Regions from separate parts of the Homo sapiens genome. Here all the other regions are reported to be linked to region 1. The links are microRNA targets in miRTarBase. Many come from high-throughput screens and were not tested one by one. Region 1 holds a microRNA gene; each other region holds the end of a gene's coding sequence.
Evidence for each region. Region 1 holds the annotated microRNA hsa-miR-421 (AUCAACAGACAUUAAUUGGGCGC, at 1,801-1,823, opposite strand). A microRNA usually pairs through its seed, bases 2 to 8, with sites in the 3' UTR of a target mRNA and lowers its output. Matches are read on the target gene's strand: a 7mer-m8 pairs with bases 2 to 8, a 7mer-A1 pairs with bases 2 to 7 and ends in A, and an 8mer does both.

Region 1 (5,105 bases):
ACAGGTATCTTAACCACTCCAGTTTTGAAATCTAACACTCCAAAGTCTACTCTGATTACAGGTCCTATCACTCCAGTTTTCCAATTACTCAGCACTCACCTTGTTCACATTAAAGCCTCTTTTTGGCCCAGACTGAGGCCACTCCTGACCTTACTTCCTTCCATGTCCAGGTTGGATTTTTTTTTTTAAATGAAGTCTCACTCTGTTACCCAGGCTGGAGTACAGTGGGTGGGATCTCGGCTCACTGCAACCTCCGCCTCCTGGGTTCAAGTGATTCTCCTGCCTCAGCCTCCTGAGTAGCTGGGATTACAGGCATGTGCCACCACACCTGGCTAATTTTTGCATTTTTAGTAGAGACAGGGTTTCACCATGTTGGTCAGGCTGGTCTCGAACTCCTGACCTCAGGTGACCTGCCCACCTTGGCCTTCCAAAGTGCTGTGATTACAGGTGTGGGCCACCGCGCCCGGCCTTAGTTTGGATTCTTAAATCCATTTCTGTGTAACTCGTCTCTTGCTAGCTGTCCACCCCTCAATCAATCAAGGCAACCAAATACTGCTAGTGACAATGCCCCAAAACCACTTCATATTTTCCTGAGCTTCTAACCCAGTTTCAAACTCATTTCTTACTTTGATATACCATAAGCTCTCCTGTTAATGGTCTCACTCCAGCGTTTTGGCCTGAATATTCCTTAGGGACTCTGGTTCATATTTAGCCCTCTAGTATTTCTGTTCCAGCAGCTTTTGTCTTCATATTCCTGTTCCTGGTCAGCTTCCTCCCCATCATCCACCTCTACAATTACAAATCTTCACCACCCTTGCCAAGTCCTCTTCCTTACTCCTATCCCTATCTCTGTGCTCCAGCAAAGAGGTAGTTCCACTTACCTAAGGCTAACCCTCCACCTGCATGTGTTCTAGAGCCATAAATTTCACCCTTCCAGCTTCACCTGCATCATCTTTCAAGATCATCTTCCATCTATTATCATCTCTCTCTTTCTCACATCTACAATGACTCCCTTCTCAATTCCTTCTGCCCCATGGTCTGCAAACACACTCAATTTTTTTCTCATGTTAAATGATTCACTGTAAGGCGCTGGATAAGTGGTTTTAACTTGTATTCTGGTTGTCACATCTACAATCAGAAAAGCTTCTCACAAAATAATGATTAAGTACAATAAATAAGATAAAGAAAATATGAACCTGGTGAGAGGTGAACAGGACGGTGGAGGATTACCTGTCAGTGCAGGTAAGGGGATAGCTGGAGTAAAGTTGAAAGGGGAAAACTTTAAATATCAGCCACAGGAGCAAACCTCAGACTGTGAGGATGAGGTTTCTGTTCAGACAATGAGCACTCTGGTCCAACCCAGGGAGCAATTAGCAGCAATTACAGTAGCAGCAACAGCCATGCAACATCAGCAAGTAGCTAAGACCAAAATGCAGGCATAGAAATGAAGTATTTCATAGAAAACAGAGTAGCAAATATGACATATGAGGCACTTGTGCTGCTACTCCCCCTTCTCCGACCCTCAGCAGACATCACTAAATAGTTATAAATGTCTTTCACACTGAGATAAGACCTGGTTTCAGAATCTTGTTATAAAACATAATCAGGGCAGGCATTATCAATCAATTGGAGATGGTACTTGAGATGAAGTGTATTTGCTATCATTGCACTACACAGAAAAGTCCTCAACAAAAGAATTAGAAGACAGGAATAAGCTTCAGGAGTAAGCATTCTGAAGAGAGCTTGGACGTTGTTGGCAACTGGCGGGGACAAGCTGAGCCCATGGAGATCACAGAGCAGGCGCCCAATTAATGTCTGTTGATGATTCATTTTTTCATTCAACAAACATTTAATGAGGCCTACAATGTGCACCGGATTAGGCACTGTGAATACAAAGATGAGTAAGGCACTGTCCTTGCCCTTAAGGAATTTAAAGTCTGGTAGACGAGAGCCATAGACACGGACAATGATAATACAACCTGCTAAGTGCTAGGACACTTAGCAGGTTGTATTATATCCATCCGAGTAGGATTTCTTCAGAGGAGCACCACTCCAGGTTGCTGCTGGATCCATGAAGTCCTCCCAGGCACCAGGGTCTGCTGTTGTTTTTGTCACGTGCTGGGTGTCCCAAGATCTAACAATAATAGCTGTAATTAATGTATAGAGTGCCTATGACAAACACTTTACAAATATCTTCATGGAAACTCTGAAAATTAATAGTTATATTAGAGGAAGAAACTGAAGTTCAACAAGTTTAAGTCACACAGCCAGCAAGCAGTTGAATTAGGTTTCAAATCCAGTTTTGACAAAGTCTAATGCATTTTTCTGTTTTCAGGATAACCTTTATGCAGGTGTAATACAACAACTTTTCAACAGCTTTCTATTTGGAACTAAAAGCAAAGGCAATAGATTAGTCACTAGATCATGGAGTGATTAATTTGGTTTCCCACTCTACCTGGCAGAGAAATAAAAGGTGAAATGACCTCACACTTACATACCATTGAAAACCTTCAAGTCAGTTACTGTTTTTCTTTCTCAACCCTAACATCGTCACTGATCATTCAAAATATAAGTACCTCTAGTCAAATCTCTTCTTTTAATACTTGTCATAGTCAACACCATTATCAGCAACAACAGTTGACACAGCATTTAGCTGTATATTCCAGGCCTGTTCTAAGCAATTTACATAATTAGTCCCTTTAAGTACTTTTTACCCCCATCATTGAAAATAAATATTATTCCTATTTTACATAAGAGAAAACAGAGTCCTGGGGAAGTGAAGAATCATGCTCAAGACCACATTGCTAAGTGTGAGAGCAGATTTGAGCCCAGGCTACCTGGTCCCAAGACCCAAACTCTCACTTTACATAGCTCTGCTGCACTGCTCAGGGCCTCCTTTCCCAACTCTTGATGGCAAGTTACACAAGGCCCCCTGAAAAACCCAGTCCTACTTACATAAAATCTCATCACTAACCATTCTGGTCATAGAAAGCCATTCTCTAAATCCCAAATATCAATACTCAGAGCCTTAATTGGAAAATTTCCCGAAGAACATTGAGTTTAGAATATACCTTTGCAAAAAGAGAAAATAAACACTCGATATGTTTAGGTTTTTAATTATTGAATTTTTTTTTTACTTGCAGATATAGTCATAAACGTTTTAAGATCCATAAGCAAACTAAAGCAATTATGCCAATAATGACTAAGGCCACTGCTTCCTCAATTGAGTCTTTGATATAAAAGCCTTCACTTTTGGTTAATTACAAAAAAAAAAAAAAAAAAAAAAAAAAAAACCGTGGGAGATATGTGACAGTGAGAGTAGGCCTGCTACTGATGAGAAGGACCAGCAACTTAGCAACACCATAAAATGTCTGCTGCAATTCAGGTGTCTAGGTGTCTCCCTGAGAATCAACATTTCATATACAGCTGTTCCCAGAAAACAATCTTGCACAATCTGTACAGTCAAGTTATGATCTAAAAGGAGTTAATTGCAACATTCATCCAAAGAATATGACAGTATTTTTCATCAAGGTCTTTTTCTATAAGTTTTTCTATAACTTTTCCTATAAGTTCTATTATGTCTATACAGTCATGTGCTGCCTAACAATGTTTAGGACAATGATGAACCTCATATATGACAGTTGTCCCACAGTTGTCCCACCACAAAATCATATCATATTTTTACTGTAGCTTTTCTATGTTTATATATGTTTAGGTACACAAATACTTACCATTCTGTTATAATTGCCTACAGTATTCAGTACAGTCATATGCTGTACAGGTTTGTAGCCTAGGTGTGTAATAGGCTATACCATTTAGAGAGGTTTGTGTTAATATACTCTATGAAGTTCACATGACAAAATCGCCTAACAATACACTTCTCAGAACATATCCCCATTGCTAAGCAATGCATGACTAAATTTTTATAACTTCCTAAGAGGTTATCCCCTCTTCGCCACTCCCACTCCTTTCAGCCCTACATCATTTCTCATCTTAGCCACCACAGTATCCTTCTAACTCATCTCCCTGTCCAGATTTGAAAACATTCCTGAACACACCCCACACTACTGCCAGTGATCATCTAAAAGCATCCCTTTCTGAAAACACTTATAATGAAATCCAAATCCCATGGCATACCATATAAAGTTCTATTCCTGGCCTACATTTCCAACCTAATTTAGAGAACTATTTGTAGTTCCCCAAACTCATCATACTACTTCCAATGTCCATGCTTTTGCTTGGAAAGCCTTTCCCTGTTTTTCACCTAGTCAAAAGGTGACTTTACTTCTTTAAAGACTCAACTCATATACCAGGTACTCTGAGCTCTGTCATCTCCAGACTCTGTAAAATGATTTCTCTTTGAACTCCAGAGTATCTTATACATACCTCCATTGTAGAGCATACCATATTGTTGTAATTATATGTGTACATAGATGTTGATCTCTCTCACTAGACTGAGAACTCCTTGAGGACGGGGATGGTGTCTAATTCATCTCCATATCCCCACTACCCAGCACAGTGCCTGGCAGCTCAAATGACAGCAGAGAGGAGAGATGCTGAATATGCAGGAGTGAGAATAAAGCAATGTTCTTGAGTAGTGGTACAATACAAATATGCTGAATGAATTGAAGCTATAGAAAAACATTTTGGGGCTCAATGTTGTAAAGAGGTCTCAAAAGAAGGGACAAGCTAACTCAAGGAGGAGTCCCCAGTTACCAAGTAAACTTACTCAGAAGTTAAAAGACCATTTGTTGGGTATGTTATCCAGGGACTTGAACTGGGGTTAGTTTAAAATAATCTATTTGGGATAGGAGACTTTTAAGGTCCTCCCATACTGGAGCTTCTAAATCTATGATCAGTGCCACAGTCAAGAGAGCCATCATTCTGAGAGCCTATGTCACAGAGTGAATGGTGACTCCCACAGTTGTGGACAAAGGCTAAAAACAGATCACAAACTTATAACTCATTTGGTTGGGTGTGGCGGTTGACACCTATAATCCCAGCACTTTCGGTGGCTGAGGTGGGCAGATCACTTGAGCCCAGGAGTTTAAGACCAGCCTGGACAACATGGCAAAACCCCATCTCTACGAAAAATACAAAAATTA
Region 2 (5,105 bases), not on the chromosome of region 1:
ACACAGGCCTGGTTGGCAGTATTCCCCGAAAAAATAAATCATGGGCTGTTTTGCATATGATTTCAGGGCACAGTTTAAAATATAATCATTCCCATCCTAAAACCCTGAGGTTCCATCTGAATAAGTTCAAATATAAACAAAATAGAGTTTAGTTTAAAGGTGGGGATGCTTGAACTTGGGAAAATTGTATAGCAAGTTAAGGCTGAGGTGCCATAAAATAATTCCTATGGAATCATCATTAATTAGTCCCCTAAGGGGATCTTTAAAGAAAATTGCACCAGAAGGCCTTCTTGTAGAACAAATGTAACAAACTGATAGAACCATTGGCAATTAAATAATACACAATATATTTGGACAAAAGCTGAGGTCCCTATCATATGGAGTCCTACTGGCATTGTCGCCCCTAGTCCAAAAATGGTATCTCCTGCCATAGGACAGGAACATTCTGAATTATGGAAATTAGCTATGGCTCAAAGTTCAATCCAAATTTGGGAGGGTAAATATAACAAGTATAAAGGGGAAGGAGGTAAAAATAAATATGCTCTTTCTTTTCTTTCCAACAGGACTTTTTGGATTCAAAGTTGTGTCCGGCCACCTTTTCTGCTAGCAATAGGAAATGTTACTCTTGATATAAACACACACTTTATTTCATGCCCCGCATGTCATTTGTTTACCTGTATTAGTTCAACCTTTAATAAAAATCAGACTGTCCTAATAATTAAAGCCAGGGAAGGAGTCTGGATACCTATGTCTTTAAATAGACCGTGGGCGGCATCTCCATCCATTCATACAGTAAATGAAATCCTTAAAAAACTTTTATCCCGTTCAAAAAGATTTATAGTTGCTCTCATAGTTGCTATAATTGGCCTCGTTGCTGTTACTACTACTACTGCAATAGCTGTACATGAATGGCTCTACATTCATCTGTACAAAGTGTTAAATTTGTCAATAAGTGGCAAAAGAATTCCACAAAATTATGGAACTCTCCAACTCAAATAAATCAAAGAACCAAATTAATGATCTCCATCAGACAGTGATTTGATTGGGAGAGCGTTATTGTAAGCTTAAAAAGTAAAATTCGAATGCATTGTGATTGAAATACCTCTGATTTTTACATTACTCCTCATCTGTATAATGAAACAGAGCATGAGTGGGAAAAAGTTGAGACATTTAAAAGGTCATACTGGAGCCGGGCACGGTGGCTCACACCTGTAATCCCAGCACTTTGGGAGGCCGAGGTGGGCGGATCACGAGGTCAGGAGATCGAGACCATCCTGGCTAACACAGTGAAACCCCGCCTCTACAAAAAATACAAAAAATTAGCCGGGCGTGGTGGCGGGCGCCTGTAGTCCCAGCTACTCAGAAGGCTGAGGCAGGAGAATGGCGTGAACCCAGGAGGCGGAGCTTGCAGTGAGCCGAGATCGCGCCACTGCACTCCAGCCTGGGCGACAGAGCGAGACTCCGCCTCAAAAAACAAACAAACAAACAAAAAGGTCATACTGGAAATTTATCTTTGGATATTGCAAAACTGAAGGAACAAGTATTTCAAGCCTCTCAGGCACATCTGACACTAATGCCAGGAAGTGAAGTGCTTGAAGGAGCTGCAGATGGATTAGCAGCTATTAACCTGCTAAAATCGATCAAGACACTTGGAGGCTCTGTGATTTCAATAATGATTGTGCTTTTAATCTGTGTTGTTTGTCTTTATACAGCCTGCAGATGTGGAAGCTGCCTCTGGAGAGAAAGCCACCGCCAAGAACAAGCAATGATAACTATGGCGGTTTTGCAAACAAGGAAAGGGAGACATGTTGGTAGAAGAGCTGAGGCAGGACTGGCTTGTCTGTCATAATGTAAGTCTTGAAAGATGTCCGGGGTCCAGGTTCTAAAACCCCTCGTGGCCTTTGGAACACCAAGCTCTGTGCCAAAGGGTGGAAGGCTGCCCTGCCGCACCACAATCTAAGCCCAGGGCATAGAACCCCTTGTGGCTTGGATGGAACCCAGGGCTCAGGGCCTAAGACCCCTTGTAGCCTCTGGAATGTGCACAGACTTGGTTCCTTGCTTCTTACTTGTAAACATGTCCTCCATTAACTCAAGCAGCAGAGCATATTCTATATACATCAAACGAAATGCTAAACCATCACAGCTACGCTTATGTACCACTACCTTTCTACCCCACATCCTCACGCCCTCACCTGTTTACCCTCACGTCCTTACCACCTGCTTCTTTGTTTGATCACCAATAAATAGTGTGGGCTCCCAGAGCTTGGGGCCTTCACAGCCTCCAATCTGGCACTGGCCCTCTGGACCCACTTTATGCACTTTTTTTTTTTTGAGGCCCAGTCTTACTCTGTCACCCAGGCTGGAGTGCAGTGGTGCGATCTCTGCTCACTGCAAGCTCTGCCTCCCGGGTTCACACCATTCTCCTGCCTCAGCCTCCCAAGTAGCTGGGTCTACAGGCGCCCGCCACCACACCCAACTAATTTTTTTCGTATTTTTAGTAGAGACGGGGTTTCACGGTGTTAGGATGGTCTCAACCTCCTGACCTTGTGATCCGCCCGCCTCGGCCTCCCAAAGCGCTGGGATTACGGGCGTGAGCTACCGTGCCTGGCCCACTTTATGCACTCGTCTTTTCTCATTCCTTTGACCCTGCTGGACTTTGTAGCCCCCATGGCCTGGTGTTGGGCCTGATCACCCCAACAGTGTGCCACTGTGTCCAGCTCATTTTTGTATTTGTAGCAGAGATGGGGTTTCACCTTGTTGGCCAGGCTGGTTTCAAACTCCTGGCCTCAAATGAACCGCCCACCTCAGCCTCGCAAAGTGCTGGGATTACAGGCATGAGCCACTGTGCCCAGCCTTGGATCATGATGTTTAATCTTAACAGTCTTACAAGCAAAGTACTATTGTTGGCCCCATTTCCAGAGATGAAAATGAAGGCTTAGAAAAGTATCTAGTCTAAGACCACAGAGTTAGGAAATAGTGGAGCCAGGATTTAAAGCCAGGCAGTCTGACTTGGAATGTCTGTTCTTAACCACTCTGTTACACGCTACCAGGACTCAAAGAACCCAAATGCCAGTCTCTCCTTTTCAGGTCATCTCTGTAGTGTTAAATAAGGGGGAAAAAGGTCAAGCCTCTCCCCTCCCCTGATGGTGATCCCATTAATTCTGGGGGAAAAAAAAACAAAAAGCCAAAATAATCCTATACTATTTGATGTTACTTTTCTAATTCAAGAAAACAAACTTGCTATTAACATATAGTGCAGAGAAAGTCATATAATATAAAGTACTGAGAAACAAAAAATTTGCTTTCAGCATTACTAGGCTCATTTTGGACTAAATGAATATAGTATATCCCAGCTCAGAAATCAACAATTTCTGAAAAGTTAAAAACTTCAACACAAACAATATATATTTTATCTAATATTTTATTTACTGATCTCTCTGAAACATGCCAAAATTCATATAGCTAAGGGAACTTACCATGCTAAAATGCTGTTCAACATGACAAATTTATACAAAACATATTTCAATGTAGTGCCTTCATTTCATTCTTGAGGAATCAACATTACATTTAGGTGGTGAAATACAAATATAATTATCAAATATCGTACTTCTAGTTTACTGGAAAACATAACAGTTGTGACAGTCACACCTAACACCTTGGTTAATTAAAGACAGAAAATGGGCAGGGGTGTCACAGAAGTATGCAAGGATTTGACAGTTCAAACTAATCCATAGCCCTTCTGAGAAACTACAGATGGAAAATATGTAGTAAATATTTCTGTAATATGGTGGTTTCAGTACATTATAGCACAGTGATCATCATTCCATTCATACACTCAAATAACTGCTGCTTCTGATCACTGAAAACTAGATTCAAAGTCATTGCTCAACAAGCTGATACTACAAATCCCTTATATTAACAGGTAGTTTAAATGTGGAAATAAGGCAAAGCATACTTGTTAGTCACAATTACTTTCAGATATAATTGAGACTACACTGCTATACATAATTAGGTACACAGTATGTATAACAATGCATACTATGGTGTGGAGTTAATTCCAATTACCATATTTTATATTTATTGGTCACAACAGCATACATTTTATGCTCCAAAATACATGGATCTGACAAAATGGTTACATTTAATGTTCTTTTAAAGAAAGATGAACTAAATTTAAGAAGAATTGGTTTTTCCTAATATCTCATTTTCAAATTACTGATACAAATTTGCCAGAGAAACAATTACATGTTTTACCTAACATCAAATAATCTCCAGTTTCTAAGACAGATGCATTTCTTGTTCAATTTCCAAAAGTAAATAAAGGCTTTCTAACTGAAAACATTTGCATCCCTAGCTCTCTAAAGTAATTAAAAAGAAAATTACAAAAAATGACCTCTAAGCTTCTGAACAGCCCACTTAGTTACATAAAGTACTTTCTGTCCCAACACTTTCTCTAATTCAAAAGATATTTACTTCCTAAGTACACGACAAAGTCTTCATTTCAAACCATTCACTCAGTTTCCATGGTAACATTGCGGGCTTCCTTGGCTACCATAAGTCGCATTAGTTGACTGTGGAATTTCTCAATCTTCTTTACATCTTGAGCTTGGTCTGTTTTATACACCAAACACTGTCAGAAATTTTAGAAGTACATATTAACTATATAAAACTAGATACTGACAATGTAGAAAACATACAATTGGGTAAAATTTTGAGAGTTTTTCCTACCACTGTTTTGCTCTATTCTCCTTGGAGGTCGTACTAGGGAAATTGCACTCAAGTTTCCAAGCCTCCAGCAATTCCATGTCTTAAAGTACAGTAATTTAAATGCCACTGCTGTGGACAAAAAACTGAATGAAGTCTATTAGAAGCTTCTGAAAAATGTTAAATGTTAAATCCTGCTATGGTCTGATGAGAAGAACTCAAGACTTAGAATTAGATATTTTCTTCCTTCGAATTAGGTATTAGATTATCTCCCTACATATTTTCTCCCAGCCATAAGTAACTGAGTTATGCTGGAAAAAAAAACACAGAAATCTTAAGATCTCTTTTTCTACTGGTGAAATTGGGGGTTTGATAATAATTTTTAGAAAAAAATCTAGAAT
Region 3 (5,105 bases), not on the chromosome of region 1:
ATCCTTCGCCTCTGTTTCATTCCCAACGCACAGGAAGCCCTTGTCTAGATCGCCCGTCTTTGGAAAGGAACCCAGCTGGAAAGGCCTTCCCCAGTGCTGACTTTCAGCCCTGCTCTTTGGGAACTTTGCTTGCCTCGGAGGCTCATGTGCCGTGGGTCATGGGGATGTGCTGGGGGCTGGGCTGGAGGCCTGCTGCAGGCCTTGTGGTGGGGTAGGGCTGGTGTCCCACGTTCCTCTTGTCCCTCTGCCTCCTTTCTAACCAAGCTGCCTGCTCTCTGCTCCAGAAAACCAGGAGTATTTCGAGAAGCATCGGTGGCCACCTGTGTGGTACCTGAAGGAGGAAGATCATTACCAGCGGGCACGGAAGGAGCGTGAGAAGGAGGACTACCTCCACCTCAAGCGGCAGCCCAAACGGCGTTGGCTCTTCTGGAACAGTCCATCCTCCCCGTCTTCCTCGGCAGCCTCCTCCTCATCCCCATCTTCCTCCTCGGCTGTGGTCTGAGATGCTGCCACCCTCTTCTGACCCTGCTGCTGTTGTCCCCATCCGCCTTCACCCCTCTGCTCTTCCGCATCACCCCATCCACCTTACAGGGACCAGGGGGCCCACGTAACCAGGACCCAGAGGGTGGAGCTCTTCTTACCAGCCACCGTGGCTCAGCCAGAGAGGAGCTGAGCCCTGTGGAGCAGAACGGGAACCACCTGCAGAGGTCCCCAGACCCAAAGCAGGACGGGAGACAACTGCTTGGAGGAGCGAAGAGCCCTGGCATTTTATCTCTGGGTTTGAGAGCCCTAGAGTCAAAGGGAAAGCCTCCCAGCCTCCAGGGCTTCTCTGTGTGTCTTGGTTGCTGCTCTGGCCAGGGAGGCAGCCCCACTCCCAGCAAGCAGAAGTGATCCTCGAGGGTCCTGCCCCTGTTGGCCATATCTTTCCACCGACGGACTTGAGTGTTGCATTTGTTTTGTGGGCATTTCCACACGAAGCCTACTCACACCCTCACTGGAGAAGTCAGGGTAGAAATTGAGCCTTCAGAGCCCAACTCAAGGCTTCTACATCCTGGGGTGCAGCTGCAAAAGGCCAGACGTGGAAAGGCCTGTATCCTGCCAGTGTCCCTCCGTCCCAGGGGGCTGTGCTAGCACAGACCTGAGAATGGGGACACAGGTCATTCAGAGCTCCAGGCCTGGAAGCAGTGCCTCTTGGTGCAACAAGAAACTTCTCCCTCACCCCCTCCTTTACCCTCAGATTTGGAGATGGTAACCAAAGGAAGCAGCTGGGACAGGTGGAGAAGGAAGTAGGAATGAGTGCACGGCGACCCCGTGCTCCTCAGGGCCCTCCCCTGCCTCTGGGTGGCACTGCTTTTTATAGGGTGGGGCAAAATTAGCAAAAAACAAAAACCAATGACAACCAAACTGAAACCGAAACGAAAAATCAACAAACACTCTGTCCTCTATCCCTCCAAAGAATGAAAATCAGAAAAAGCCCCTGCCTAGCTCACATTTCTATAAACAGAGGCCCCCATGATGAGGAGGTGAAGATTTAGGTTGCAGAATCGACTCCAATGCCTTTCAGGAAAGGACTCGGCACTTCTCTGACTGCGGAGGCCCTGACCCTGCCAGCTGGCTCCGAGGGCAACACAGGGGCCTGGCCTCTAGAGGGCTGGTGATTGAGGGGCCCGGGCTGGCGGCAAAGAGGGGTTTGGTCTCGGGGCTTAAATGGCACCAGACTCTTGCTTTTGCCCATCTGGAGACTGCAGGCTCCCTTCCTTACCCTCAGAGAGTGCTTATGGTGGGTGTTTTTGCGGGGCTGCAATAGGGGCCAAAAGTCAGGGAAAGGGGCACTGACCTGTAGTGAAAGGCCACAGGACACAGCCTTATTACTGCTGGGGTGGGATAAGGGGAAGGAGAAGAGGGAGAATGGAGCAGGAGGAAAAGCAGAGTTGGTCTAGAGAGGAGGAGGGCGGGGCTGGAGGAATGTGGGGGATTGAAACTAGCTCCCAGCCCCCATGGGGCAGCAGCTGGGCCACAATTGCCCCTTTCCGTTTTCTAACCCCGACTCAGATTTCACCACCCACACTCTTTTTAGGTGTAAAAGATGGAGTCCCACGGAGGAGGGGCAGAGCCAGGAGGCAGTGGGGCTGTGGGCTCAGAGCTCAGGAGTCGCCTTACCTGAGAGAGATGTTCTAGCTGAGAGGGCCTGGCCCTGGGGTGGGCTCCAGGAAAACGCTGGTTAGGCCTGGGATTGAGCTAACCTGAAACAAAGGTAGCAGGCAGGACCTAATGACCAGAGGTTAAATCCTCATCAAGAGAGACCAGGCGGCTGGAGGACAAGCGGCTCTAACCCTGGGGGCGGCCATGTTGTCCAGGCCCAGGCCCCTCCAGGACTGTGGCTGCCTCCCCTCCACGGCCTCCAGGGCGGCTGGCTGGAAAGCCACGCGTATGCTGCCCTCTACAGGCTGCTCGGCCTCCCTGCAGCTCAGCGCAGCCCAGGGCTCCAAGTGAGGCCCAGAAGCCCATGGGCAGGGCTGGGGGGACGAAGGGGGAACCCGGAGCACCTCCACTTCTAGGGAAGATGGACAGCGTGGGGGCACACCTGGGCCTCCCGGAAGCTGTGGACGAAAGGGAGAGCGGGTCCTCCAGGGCAAGGGGAACGGGAAATAGGTCTCCTAGGTGCCTGAAGCGCTGAGCAACCTGGGTACCCTGGTGGGGATGCAGGGAAGGCCGGGGCAGAGAAAGTGAAGGTCGACCCAGGGCTGTAGGAAGCCATAGGAGAGTGACCACGGGATTCCCTGAGAAACAGGGCCGGCCCCCCAACTTCAGGGACCCACCGCCCATTCCCCGAGAGCTGTCGGAACCAGATGCAACCCGGCAGCCCAGAGAACTCTCCTGGGAGGCTGTGGGTGAGCCAGGCCAACATTGGTGTCCCTGTCCCCAGAGGGAGGAGCAGGCAGGAGAGAGAGGGGAAGGAGGTATGAATCCCAGTCCCCAGGAACCTAGCTCTTTAAACTCTGGGGAGTCGGATTCAGGAAACACCCCCAGGAGGCCAAGCCTGAAAACAGAGGGGAGGGAGGAAGGAAGGAGTCCCAGCAGGAGCACAGCCCTGGTTTCCTGTCACTCAGAGCTGATTCACAGGAGGAGGGGAGGTTGGGGGGCGGGAGACAAAAACCACACCTCTTTTTATATAAGGTTTCATATTTAATTTGGTCATGGATTCATAAATACATAAGTATTTTGTACACAATGTGCTTCCTTGTTTGTATTATAACACATTTCAAATAGGGACCTTTGACAGGGCAGAAGCATGAAAGGACACCAACCACGAGTGACACACTATACTATGGCTGTCCTGTGTCACATGCTATTTGGCCTGGGGATATAGCAAAGCCTAATGTAACTAAACAACAAAACCCCCAATTATTTCATGTCGTCAGGAAGCTTACTTTAAAAGAATAGCTTGGCCTGGCTGGTGGCTCACGCCTGTAATCCCAGCACTTTCGGAGGCCAAGGTGGATCACCTGAGGTCAGGAGTTCGAGACCAGCCTGACCAACATGGTGAAACCCCGTCTCTACTAAAAATACAAAAATTAGCCAGGCGTGGTGGCGGGTGCCTGCAATCCCAGCTACTCCGGAGGCTGAGGCACGAGAATCGCTTGAACCCAGGAGGCGGAGGTTGCACTGAGCCAAGATCGTACCGTTGCACTCCAGCCTGGGCGAGAGAGTGAGATTCTGTCTCAAAAAAATTAAAAATAAAAGAAAAATCTTAAACACTGATAAGGCTGACACTCTAGATGCATCTTCTAGGAAGGCCTCTGTGGAAGGGACAAGGGACCTGGGACCGGACTGGCACCTTCTGAGCCCTGAGGCTGAGCGTCCTGCACAGAAGGCCCAGCAAAGGCAAAGACCAGGAGGCAGCAGCACCCTGTGCCTTCCAGAAGTGCAGGGGACAACGCGTGGGATGCCAGATGGAAGTGGGAGAGGATGGAAGTGCAAAGACCAGAAAGGTCACCCCCCACTCCTAAAACTCCACAGACACAACAGTCTGAATGTGTGATCTTCAGGCAATTCTAACTTTGTCCCACCCAAACCAGTCCCGGAACAAAACACACAATGCCTTGAGACAGAAAAGACCAAAAACTCCTGGAATGACTACCTGCATAAATGATCCTTCCATGACTGAAATACTATGGAGAAGGGTTTGCTGGAAAGAGGCTGAAATGGTTACTGAGGTCTTAAAACAATAATAGAACAGGACACAAGAAGAAAACCTTAATGCGTCAGCCATTCTAGGTCCTGTTGCCACAGTGTTTAAGAATTGACATTTCTGAGATGAGTCAGATGCTTACAGAGCGGCCAAGGTCCTCAAGTAGGCAATCTGTACCCTAAAAGGCAGCTCATGGGCTCAGGGTGACAGATAACCAGAAGTGAGCCGGGCCATCTACTCCTGAGATGGCAACCATTTCACACCATTCTCAAGCACCATCTACTCTTCCCCCTTGATGCCATGGCAGACGTGGGAGACAGATTTTGTCTTCTATCTCCTGAGCCCAAACAGGGCTCAAGTTCACTTGGGATATGACATAGACCCTATTGTTATGTGTGATCTAACCCATCTGCCTCTGTCCCAGCCTGTCCATAGATGGGGGCTATGGGTGCAAATGAGACTGCCCAGGTAGGGACCAGCCACACACAGGACTTCACGTGGATCCAGTTCTCTTTGGTCCCGACTCATATGTAAACAACTACCTATAAATAATACTCATATACTTGTAAGGTTGTCCAGTTCAAAAGACTGGCCCCTGTAGAAGTTGCCAATCATTGAAGCCAAAGTACATCTGAGGGAGGGCTGGAACCCAGACAGTGACATCTTACAGGGGACTTCTTCTTCTTCCCCCATTGTATGTCTCCTCCTTTTATGTTTATCTAATCTATTCACATAACTATGTAAACAAGTACATTTACTAAAGTTTCTTCATGTTCATAAAATAATAACATACAGAATTATAAAAGTAGAAAGGTAAGGCCAAGCATGGGGGCTCACGCCTCTAATTCCACCGCTTTGGGAGTCTGAGGTGGGCAGACTGCTTGAGTCCAGGAATTCGAGACCACCCTGAGCA
Region 4 (5,105 bases), not on the chromosome of region 1:
GGACCTCCTTCACGAGGAGGACACATGGATGATGGTGGATATTCCATGAATTTTAACATGAGTTCTTCCAGGGGACCACTCCCAGTAAAAAGAGGACCACCACCAAGAAGTGGGGGTCCTTCTCCTAAGAGATCTGCACCTTCAGGACTAGTTCGCAGCAGCAGTGGAATGGGAGGAAGAGCTCCTCTATCACGTGGAAGAGATAGTTATGGAGGTCCACCTCGAAGGGAACCGCTCCCCTCTCGTAGAGATGTTTATTTGTCCCCAAGAGATGATGGGTATTCTACTAAAGACAGCTATTCAAGCAGAGATTACCCAAGTTCTCGTGATACAAGAGATTATGCACCACCACCACGAGATTATACTTACCGTGATTATGGTCATTCCAGTTCACGTGATGACTATCCATCAAGAGGCTATGGCGATAGAGATGGATATGGTCGTGATCGTGACTATTCAGATCATCCAAGTGGAGGTTCCTACAGAGATTCATATGAGAGTTATGGTAACTCACGTAGTGCTCCACTTACACGAGGGCCCCCGCCATCTTATGGTGGAAGCAGTCGCTATGATGATTATAGCAGCTCACGTGATGGATATGGTGGAAGTCGAGACAGTTACTCAAGCAGCCGAAGTGATCTCTACTCAAGTTGTGACAGGGTTGGCAGACAAGAAAGAGGGCTTCCCCCTTCTGTAGAAAGGGGGTACCCTTCTTCACGTGATTCCTACAGCAGTTCAAGCCGCGGAGCACCAAGAGGTGCTGGCCCTGGAGGAAGCCGATCTGATAGAGGGGGAGGCAGAAGCAGATACTAGAAACAAACAAAACTTTGGACCAAAATCCCAGTTCAAAGAAACAAAAAAAAGAGTGGAAACTATTCTATCATAACTACCCAAGGACTACTAAAAGGAAAAATTGTGTTACCTTTTTTAAATTCCCTGTTAAGTCCCTTCCGTAATTTTTATGTTCTTGTGAGGAAAAAAGTAAAACATGTTTAATTTTATTTGACTTTATGACATTGCTTTTCAACAAGCAAATGTTAAATGTGTTAAGCCTTGTAGTACTAGTGTTGTAACTTTCCAAGTAAAGGTGTCCCTAAAGACCACTTCCTATCTGGTTTTTCCCAGTAAATGAGGCAAGCAATTCTAAGATCTTCCACAAAACATCTAGCCAACTAAAATGGAGAGATGAATCATTCTGCCTATACAAACAAGCTAGCTATTAGAGGGTGGTTGGAGTATGCTACTCATAAGATTTCAGGGTGTTTTCTAACTGAAATCTCACTGTTCTCAGTATGCAAAACCTGAAATCAGATGCCTATGTAAGGAAAGTGCTATTCACCCAGTAAACCCAAAAAAAGCAAATGGATAATGCTGGCCATTTTGCCTTTCTGACATTTCCTTGGGAATCTGCAAGAACCTCCCCTTTCCCCTCCCACAATAAGACCATTTAAGTGTGTGCTAAACAACTACGGAATACTAAATAAAAAGTTTGGCCAAAACCAACCATGAAGCTGCAAAGGTGCTTGCTCTTACTCTTTCAAATTTTTGCAACTCTAATGTCTCACTTTTAAAGGAACAGCTTGATTGCAAAGGAGAAAATAGATAAGCAATGAATTTATCTCCAACTTCCTAAAGGCTTATGACTTCTAAAAAGTGAATCTATCAGCATTCCACATCAGATTTAAAGCATCAAATGCCTGTGAAACAGCAAAGATGGTTGAAGATTGTGCTCATTATGTTTGTGGAGTGCTGATTGATTCACAGTAGATAACGCTGGCAGTAAGAGAAATCAAATGCTAAGAGTTGTTGAAGCAGAAGGCGGCTGATTGTTGGTAAGTCAGTGCAGTTGCATAAGCAGTGCTGTCAGAATTGGTTTGGTGCAGGCAATAGATTTTGCCTTCAAGGGTTCCTGTGGATCTCAGGAAGGCATCAGTGTTGATTAACACTCATAACTAGGGAGTGAGTGGTAGTTACTTAAGTAATTGACCAAATGGAAAAGGGGAAGTAATTAAGGAAATTGGTAAGTGGAGGTAGTCAGGAGGTTCTCGTGGTCCTTTACACAGATTTTACAGCTTTGGGTTTCATTTTGTTTAGCTAAAGTCATGGGGACAACTCTTCAATTTAGAACTTAAGATGAATTATAAAAATGATGGATATAAGTGGTAGCTCTATCTGGTGAAGTGTCTTGTCAGTAAGTGAAACATTTTTTTGTGGTGGCTTATCCACAAACAGTTTAGTTGTAGAATAAAACTTATGAGTGACATCTGGAAAGTAACAACCATGCTAAGATGGCAAACACACTGGAAACAATTGGGCCACTTGGCTTTCTTTTGCTGTATTGTTTTATAAGCCTGCTTTACCTCCCCGTCTTGGAAACAAGTTTTAGTTTATTGCTTTGGAGACTAGAGCCAATAGTGTAATGTTCTCAAAGGAAACAGACTTGAGTTGTTGGATTAGAGGAACTAACTCAACTTCTAATTTTTTTTGTTGTAATTATGGCACTGTCATGTTTTAACATTTGCAACTAGGGATAGTAAGTACAACATTTTTAACTCTCATTTGGCAGACTACTACTAATCACAGACCACAAGGGTAATGACCAAATTTATGTGGTTGTTACACTTCCATAGTTGTCTTAGCCGAATCCTTCCATATTCTTATGATTACTTGGGTTAAAGCTTCTGTGAGGACCTTTTGGCTCTTAAGATATCCTAAATATTTAAAATATTTAGATATCCTAAATATAGGATATAGAGTTTGTACCAAATATGAATGAATATTGTTCAAAGCAAGGAGTATGTTAAAATGACCAGACACCTGTTTGATAAATAGTTTACTGAACTAGCAGACGTGTGGAAAAAGAATCAGATCTTGATTCTTCTGGGTTTATACTGGTTGTAAAACAGAATGATATTAGAAAATGTTTTCCTTGTTTAAGTGGTAGTTGAACATAGAACTTGGGTATTATAGATCACTTTTCACTTTTTGGAATGTTTTGTATTGAAACTTAATACAACTTTAACATGGCAAAAAAAAAAAAAATCCAAAATCTATGAGATAATTTTGTTAAAGTTGGCTTGCTTGGGCGGGTGCTTGGTCCAGAGGGAGAAAAGAAGGCATGATTTCAGAATACTCTGGCAGCTTTTTAAATTCAGCTTTATCAAGTTACAGTAAACTGTATCTGTTTAGAATTACAACTCAATGGTTATTTTGACAGATGTATATGCCATGAAGCCACTGTCACCATCAACATGCAGAACACTTCCATCGCCCCCAAAAGATTCCTCAAGTTCCTTTGCAGTCCATCCCTCACGCTGCTGATTTGTCTTTGTCACCATATATTAGTTTGCTTTGTGGTGGTGTTTAGTATTTTATATAAATGGGATTGTGTAGCATGTACTTTTTTGTTTATGGTTTCTTTCACACACAATGACTTTGAAATTCACCAGGTTGCAGTGTATCAGTAGCTTATTCCTTTTATTGCTGAGTAGTGTCCCATTATGTGAATATGCCATTATTTGTTTTTCTACTCACCTGTTGATGGACCTTGGGATTGTTTCCAGTTTGGGGCTACTGTGAATAAAACTGTTAGGAACATTTGTGTACAAGCCACTGTGTAGACATAGGTTTTCCTTTCTCTTGGGTAAATACCTACCAGTAAAATGGTTGGGTTGCATGGCAGATTTATGTTTAATAAAGTAACTGCCAAACTGTTTGTTTTCCAAAGGGGCTATACCCTTTTATATTCCCACCAGGGTTGTATAGAGTTCCAACTGCCAACACTCAGTTTTCAGCCATTCTGATGGGAATCTAGTGGTATCTCATTGTGGTTTTATTTTCATTTCCCCGGGTGACTAATGCTGGTAAGCATCTTTTAAGGTACTTTTTGGCCAGTTGTATATTTTCTGTGAAGTGGCTGTCAAATCTTTTGCCCACTTTTAATTGGATTGTTTGTCTTATTGAGTTGTAAAAGTTCTTTATATATACTGTATTAAAGTCCTTTGTAAGACACATGTTCGTAAATACTTTTCTTTCATTATATGGCTCAGAATCTGGCAACTTTTTAAGAGATACTTGAGCCCACTGAATGATATATAGATCTTATAGTTTTTTTAAGTCAAGCCTTAATAATAATTAACATTTTTTGAGTGTTCATCTCTCAGTCCCTCTATGGCCATGAAGGTGGGAGATGTGACTCTGTTTAGTCTCAAGTAAAGAAATGCAAACTGAGATAATGGGTACAAATGGAGATGAAGCAAAGCCCTGTGATGTTCAAGTTCCTGGTTTCTGTTACCATTCAGTCTGGCTGGACCTCTGCCTTTCCCATGGTAACATGACCTTTCTAATGAATTCTCCCTTTTCATCTAAACTGTTTCAGATTGAGTTTCTCTCACATAACTAAGAGATCTGATTACTATAGCTTCGGAGCTTCTAAGGCATCTTATGCACTTGTCTCTTCCCCACTGTTCAATCTGAAGCATGTACTCTGCCCTTTAGCAAAAATCACAACTCCACCAGGTGTGGTGGCTCATGCCTGCAATCCCAGCACTTTGAGAGGCCAAGGCAAGAGGATTGTGTGAAGCCAGGAGTTCGAGTCCAGCATGGGCAAAGCAAGACCCTCTCTACAAATGAATGTTTGAAAAAAAAAAAAATTAAGGCCGGGCATGGAGGCTCACACCAATAATCCCAGCACTTTGAGAGGCCAAGACAGGAGGATCACTTGAACCCAGGAGTTTGAGACCAGCCTGGGCAACATAGCAATATTCTATCTCTACCAAAAAAAAAAAAAATTAAGAACAAAATTAGCCAGGTGTGGTGCCACATACCTGTAGTCCCAGCTACTCAGGAGGCTGGGGTGGGAGGATGACTTCAACTTGGGCAGGTGAGGTTGCAGTGAGCCATGATTGCACCACTGCACTCCAGCCTGAGCAACAGAGCAAGACTCTGTCTCAAAAAAATTAAAGTTAACCAGGCATACTGGCACACATATGTCATCCCAGCTACTTGGGAGGCTGAGGTGGAGATCACCTTAGCCAGGAGGTTGAGGCTGCAGTGAGCCATGATGGTGGCACTGCCACAGCCTGGGTGACAGAGCGAGACCCTGT
Region 5 (5,105 bases), not on the chromosome of region 1:
GCAGCCCAAACACATCACTGTTGCCCTTAAACCCTTCCCTTTTTTCAAGAATCAGTATTTGTCTCACCTCCCTGGAGAAAAACTTTTCTCTATGTTCCTGTGAACGAATTCCATTGCCAATCTCCTTTAAGACAATAGCTAAAACTTCCTGAGCACTCTGTGCTTTACACACAGTATCTCAAGTAATAAGTCTGACAACTCTATGAAGTAAGTACTAATTTTATCTCCATTTTATAAATGACAAACCTGAGGCCCAGAGAGGTTAAGCAGTTTGCCCAAGGTCACACAGCTAGGAAATGACAGAGCTAAGATTAGAACTCAACTTGAGGCCTAGTTCCTGCTCTTGATCATGCATTATTATTATCAACCTGGCTCAGTATAAGCAGTGTGGTATGATTTGGATACCTACAGGGGGATTGCAGCTCTCAAAGCTCTTATTGGTCATTTTTCTTGGAATAAGTTGCTGAAAACAAGCCAGGTCTGATTCCTAGATGATATCATAACTTAAATTTACTAATGAAAGTAATGGCTGGAGCCTGGAGCTCAGACCAGGTTACAGACTGTAGAGTAAGGAGCTGTGAGTTTAGTATGAAATCTGACTTTCATGCAACTCTTAGAGTCCTAAAATATGTATTGGTTGAGAACAAAGACAAGAATCAAATTAGAAAATATAAATTTCAGAATTTACTAGTTAACCTACTCACTATACTCATTAGATACATAGCTCAGCATGTTAATGATTATACAGCTGCTGTATGGTGGGCACCTACTCTTTTATTTATTTGTTATTTTTGAGGCAGGGTTCCGCTCTGTTGCCCGGGCTAGAGTGCAATGTCATCATGGCTCACTGCAATCTTGACCTTCTGAGTTCAAACAATCCTCCCCACCTCAGCCTCCTGGGTAGCTGGGACTACAGGCATGGGCCACCACACCTGGCTAGTTTTTAAATTATTTTGTCGATATGGGGTCTCACTATGTTACGCAGGCTGGTCTGAAACTCCTGGGCTCCAGCGATCCTTCCACCTCAGCCTCCCAAAGTGCTGGGATTACAAGCGTGAGCCACTGTGTCTGGCAGCTTTTTACATAAATAGAAAAACAGAGAATCAGAAAAATGACCTCCCAAGAACAAGAGCAGGATTTGAACCCAAATCTGTCTGACTCCAGGGACAGGACAGTATCTGTCTACCTTGTATCAGTGAGTTCAGTGTATCAATGCCAAGTCAGAGAACACATCTTGAGTTTTGTGGTTTTTGAACTCACTGATTTTTTTTGTTTTTTTGAGATGCAGTCTCGCTCTGTCTCCCAGGCTACAGTGCAGTGGTGCAATCTTGGCTCACTGCAACCTCCGCCTCCCGGGTTCAAGCGATTCTCGTGCCTCAGCCTCCTAAGTAGCTGGGATTCAGGCGTGCGCCACCATACCCAGCTAATTTTTGTATTTTCAGTAGAGACGGGGTTTCACCATGTTGGCCAGGCTGGTCTCGAACTACTGACCTCAGGTGATCCACCCACCTTGGCCTCCCAAAGTGCTGGGATTACAGGTGTGAGCCACTGCGCCCTGCCAAACTCACTGATTTCTTTTCTGAAAAATAACTGCCTCTTTGAGTGCAGAGTGAATGTCAGAATTGGACATATAAGTAAACTGAACAATGATAGTGAAATTAACATTTGTATACTCATAGCTTTCAAAGAGTACTCAGAAACGGCCCATCTGATCTTGCCATTTTATCTTTGCATTTTCGATGAGATAAGAAGGCAGAGCAGGTATTATCATCTGTTTAGAAGTCCAGAGATGAGTAACTTGCTCAAAGGCTGATGACTGCCCAGTGGCAGAGCTAGGATTAGACCTGGACAGTTGGTGATAATGCTTTCCTAAGTAGCACTACCGGCTGCAAACACATAGGTTCTTGTCTGTTCCACATAAATATGCAGTCTCTTATCAGACTCCAGTGAAAGGCTGACAAGAGTGAAGGAAGGAAGACTAAAGATAAGTGGCTAATGTGGGAAGTGAATGGCCTTTTGATGCAGTCAGGCTCAGGTTCAAATCTTGGCTTCATTTCTTATGCTGTGATTTGGACAGTTAACCTAAGCTTGTTTTCTTCATCAGTCAAAATGGGAAACAACACTGATTCAATTAACATTTATTAAGAAATTCCAGTGTGTCAGATAAACCATTACTAGAAAGTCATAAAAGGCTGTTTGATACATTTTAATCAATACATTATTATTTTTTAGGCTAGTCATGGTGGCTCATGTCTAATTCCAGCACTTCGGGAGGCCAAGGCAGGAGAATCACTTGAGGCCAGGAATTTGAGACCAGCCTGGGTAACATACTGAGACTCCCATCTCTACAAAAAAATTTAAATATTAGCTGGGTGTGGTGGCACATGCCTGTAATCCCAGCTACTTGGGAGGCTGAGGTGGGAGGATCACTTGAGCCTGGGCTGTCAAGGCTGCAGTGAGCTGAGATCACACCACTGCACTCCAACCTGGGTGACAGAACAAGACCCTCTCTTGAAAAAAATTTTTTTGTGTTTTTTTTTAGGACAGGTGCAGTGGCTCATGCCTGTTAATTGCAGCACTTTGGGAGGCTGAGACAGGCGGATCACTTGAGGTCAGGAGTTCAAGACCAACCTGGCCAACATGGGGAAACCCCGTGGTGGCGCAGGCCTGTAATCCCAGCTACTTGAGAGGCTGAGGCAGGAGGTTCACTTGAACCCGGGAGGCGGAGGTTGCAGTGAGCTGAGATAGCGCCACCGCACTCCAGCCTAAGCAAGATGGAGACTCCATCTCAAAAAAAGTTTTTTTTTTTTTTCCCACAGGGACAGAGGATTTTGGATGTGGCCCTGGAGATACATTTTCTAAAAATTTTTATTCACTACATACCTCTCAAAGGAATTAAATCTTTTTTTCTAATTAAAAAAATTAATTTTTTTTTTTTTTTGTAGTGGTGGGGTCTCAGTAACCAGGCTGGTCTTACACTTCTGGGTTCAAGCCATCCTCCCACGAGTATCCCAAAGTTCTGAGATTACAGGCATGAGTCACTGTGCCTGGCCAAAGGAACTAAATCTTGAAGATTTAGTTGCTTGAAAGTTAGACCAGGAGTCTAATGCGGAGGCCAATGGAGGCCAGGCAAGAAGCGTATGGGAGCAGAGCAGGTGGGATAGGGAACCGCCAAGCCCTTGGCTGCACTTAACACTGCAAAACAGGGAGAGCCCCGTGGAGCCAGGTGAAGCAGGTGATTCTCTGTGGAGTCTCCCACATTTTAAATGTTGGAAAATATAGTGAAAAACAGTATCTCAGTTAAATCTTTCCTGTAGGCTGCCAGTTTCTCAAGTTAGTTCCAGAGGAAAAGGGGCTTTTTAGTCACATGAAAATGGCAATTGCAAAGTCAAAACTTTGGGAAGATAAGCCTGGTCAGGGAGCTGCACATGATTTGGTTTAGTTGGCACTTGGAGAGAAAGCTGGGGAAGCCCAAGTCAGGAGGCCAGAGAGCAATCTGTCAGGCGTGAGATGTGACAGTGCACATTACAACTGCTACTGAGTGGGGCAAATCCCTGTGTCAAGGACCAGAGCATGGCAGCTCACGCCTGTAATCCCAACACTTTGAGAGGCCAAGGCAGGAGGATCATTTGAGCCTAGGAGTTCAGGACCAGCCTGGGCAAGATGATGAGGCCTGTCTATATAAGACTAGAGCCCTGCCCTTTCTACTTCATCAGCACAAGAGTCCAGGCAAGAGGAGGGCCATTTAACCCTACCCCTGCGATTTTGCTGTTCCACACATTAAATAGGAAAAGACTGGCAAAGGGGAATTGATAGTAAGTGGAATTTATTTATAAAACAATGCAAATACTATGTGGAATTAGGAAGCATTTCCCATTTTTATTCATAAAATTATTACTTAAAATTGCAAAAGTAGATTTACAGAGGCACAGGTAACAAAACAGGAAATGAAATGTTCCAGACATTCCGAAAAGTTCGAAAGAAACACACCCTAGCCTCAAAATCTCCGGTTAAACCGTGGTTGCACAACAGGTTCTATTTATTCCTGCATTTTCTCAATAAGTTCTTCTTTATATTTGCCTTTCTCTTTTCCAACTTGTCGAGACTTGGCTTTGCGTTCAAGAATTTTTTTCCGATCCTTGTCCAGTTTTAGCCTGGTGATAACCACCTGTTGGGAGTGAGAAAACAGGTCTTTATTTCTGCATCCCCACCAGCTATTGAGCAATATAGACATCATAAGTTAAGTAAGACCTCAGCCATTCAGCTTTTAAGGAACTGAAACTCTGGAAGGAAAACAGACCCTGTAACACAATACAAAATAGGAACACAAAGGAAAAATAGCATGTTCCACTAGGTAGGCATGAGGGCTACAGGAAGATATATTCTCTCTTATTCCTCTGAATATTATGTGGTAGGGGAAGTGATGCCTAGAACACTTGGAAGCCTCTTGCAACCAGCTTAAAGACACAGCCATCGGCCGGCCATGATGGCTCACACCTGTAATCCCAACACTTTGGAAAGCCGAGGCGGGCGGATCACGAGGTCAGGAGATCGAGACCATCCTGGCCAACATGGTGAAACCCCATCTCTATTAAAAATATAAAAATTAGCTGGGCGTGGTGGTGTGTGCCTGTAGTCCCAGCTACTTGGGAGGCTGAGGCAGGAGAATTGCTTGAACCCAGGAGGTGGAGGTTGCAGTGAGCCGAGATCGCACCACAGCACTCCAGCCTGGTGACAGAGCGAGCATCCGTCTCAAAAAAAAAAAAAAAAAAAAAAAGACACAGCCATCACCAAGAAAGGCAAAACAGAAAAGAGAAGAGAAGAAAAATCTGGATCCTTGATGATATCACAAAGCTACTGAATCAATCAAGTCCACCTGGCCTGCCTCAGCCAACTGTGCAGGGAGTACCAAAACACCAATAACTTTGAACAGTATTGACACACTCCATGGCTGCTACTGCCACTCAGTCCTTGACCATACCTTGCTTGGGTGAATGCCCACGTGGACAGTTGTGCCGTTGGCCTTCTCACGCTGCACCCGCTCGATGTAGATGACATATTTCTTTCTGTACACCTGGACTACCTTGCCAATTTGCTGACCTTTG

Region 2: the mRNA of SRP9 is a reported target of hsa-miR-421. Seed matches in the 3' UTR shown: 7mer-A1 at 3,492-3,498.
Region 3: the mRNA of RHOBTB2 is a reported target of hsa-miR-421. The part of its 3' UTR that is shown has no 7-base or 8-base seed match.
Region 4: miRTarBase lists RBMXL1 as a target of hsa-miR-421. Seed matches in the 3' UTR shown: 7mer-A1 at 1,805-1,811 and 7mer-m8 at 3,535-3,541.
Region 5: the mRNA of RPL26L1 is a reported target of hsa-miR-421. The part of its 3' UTR that is shown has no 7-base or 8-base seed match.

Annotation. Positions count from the first base shown.
Region 1 is chrX:74,216,592-74,221,696 of GRCh38, forward strand. It overlaps MIR421 (microRNA 421), which reads right to left and starts at 1,870; the gene lies at 1,786-1,870. All of the region lies in intron 5 of FTX (FTX transcript, XIST regulator), which reads right to left. It overlaps MIR374B (microRNA 374b), which reads right to left and starts at 2,027; the gene lies at 1,956-2,027. It overlaps MIR374C (microRNA 374c), which reads left to right and starts at 1,958; the gene lies at 1,958-2,027.
Region 2 is chr1:225,788,765-225,793,869 of GRCh38, reverse strand. SRP9 (signal recognition particle 9) reads right to left here. Exons shown (of 3, transcript NM_003133.6): 3 at 3,406-4,630. The coding sequence ends at 4,511. Among named protein-coding and RNA genes, the nearest start is that of SRP9, 13 kb to the right of the region's middle.
Region 3 is chr8:23,016,968-23,022,072 of GRCh38, forward strand. It overlaps RHOBTB2 (Rho related BTB domain containing 2), which reads left to right. Exons shown (of 10, transcript NM_015178.3): 10 at 285-3,232. The coding sequence ends at 502. It overlaps TNFRSF10B (TNF receptor superfamily member 10b), which reads right to left. Exons shown (of 9, transcript NM_003842.5): 9 at 3,166-5,105. Among named protein-coding and RNA genes, the nearest start is that of RHOBTB2-AS1, 20 kb to the left of the region's middle. RefSeq lists enhancers at 1,301-1,570, 2,008-2,572, 2,573-3,135, 2,931-3,090 and a silencer at 1,545-1,712.
Region 4 is chr1:88,978,362-88,983,466 of GRCh38, reverse strand. It overlaps RBMXL1 (RBMX like 1), which reads left to right. Exons shown (of 3, transcript NM_001162536.3): 3 at 1-4,011. The coding sequence ends at 813. All of the region lies in intron 2 of KYAT3 (kynurenine aminotransferase 3), which reads left to right. Among named protein-coding and RNA genes, the nearest start is that of KYAT3, 12 kb to the left of the region's middle.
Region 5 is chr5:172,968,476-172,973,580 of GRCh38, reverse strand. It overlaps RPL26L1 (ribosomal protein L26 like 1), which reads right to left. Exons shown (of 4, transcript NM_016093.4): 3 at 4,982-5,105; 4 at 3,810-4,168. The coding sequence ends at 4,040. Among named protein-coding and RNA genes, the nearest start is that of RPL26L1, 12 kb to the right of the region's middle.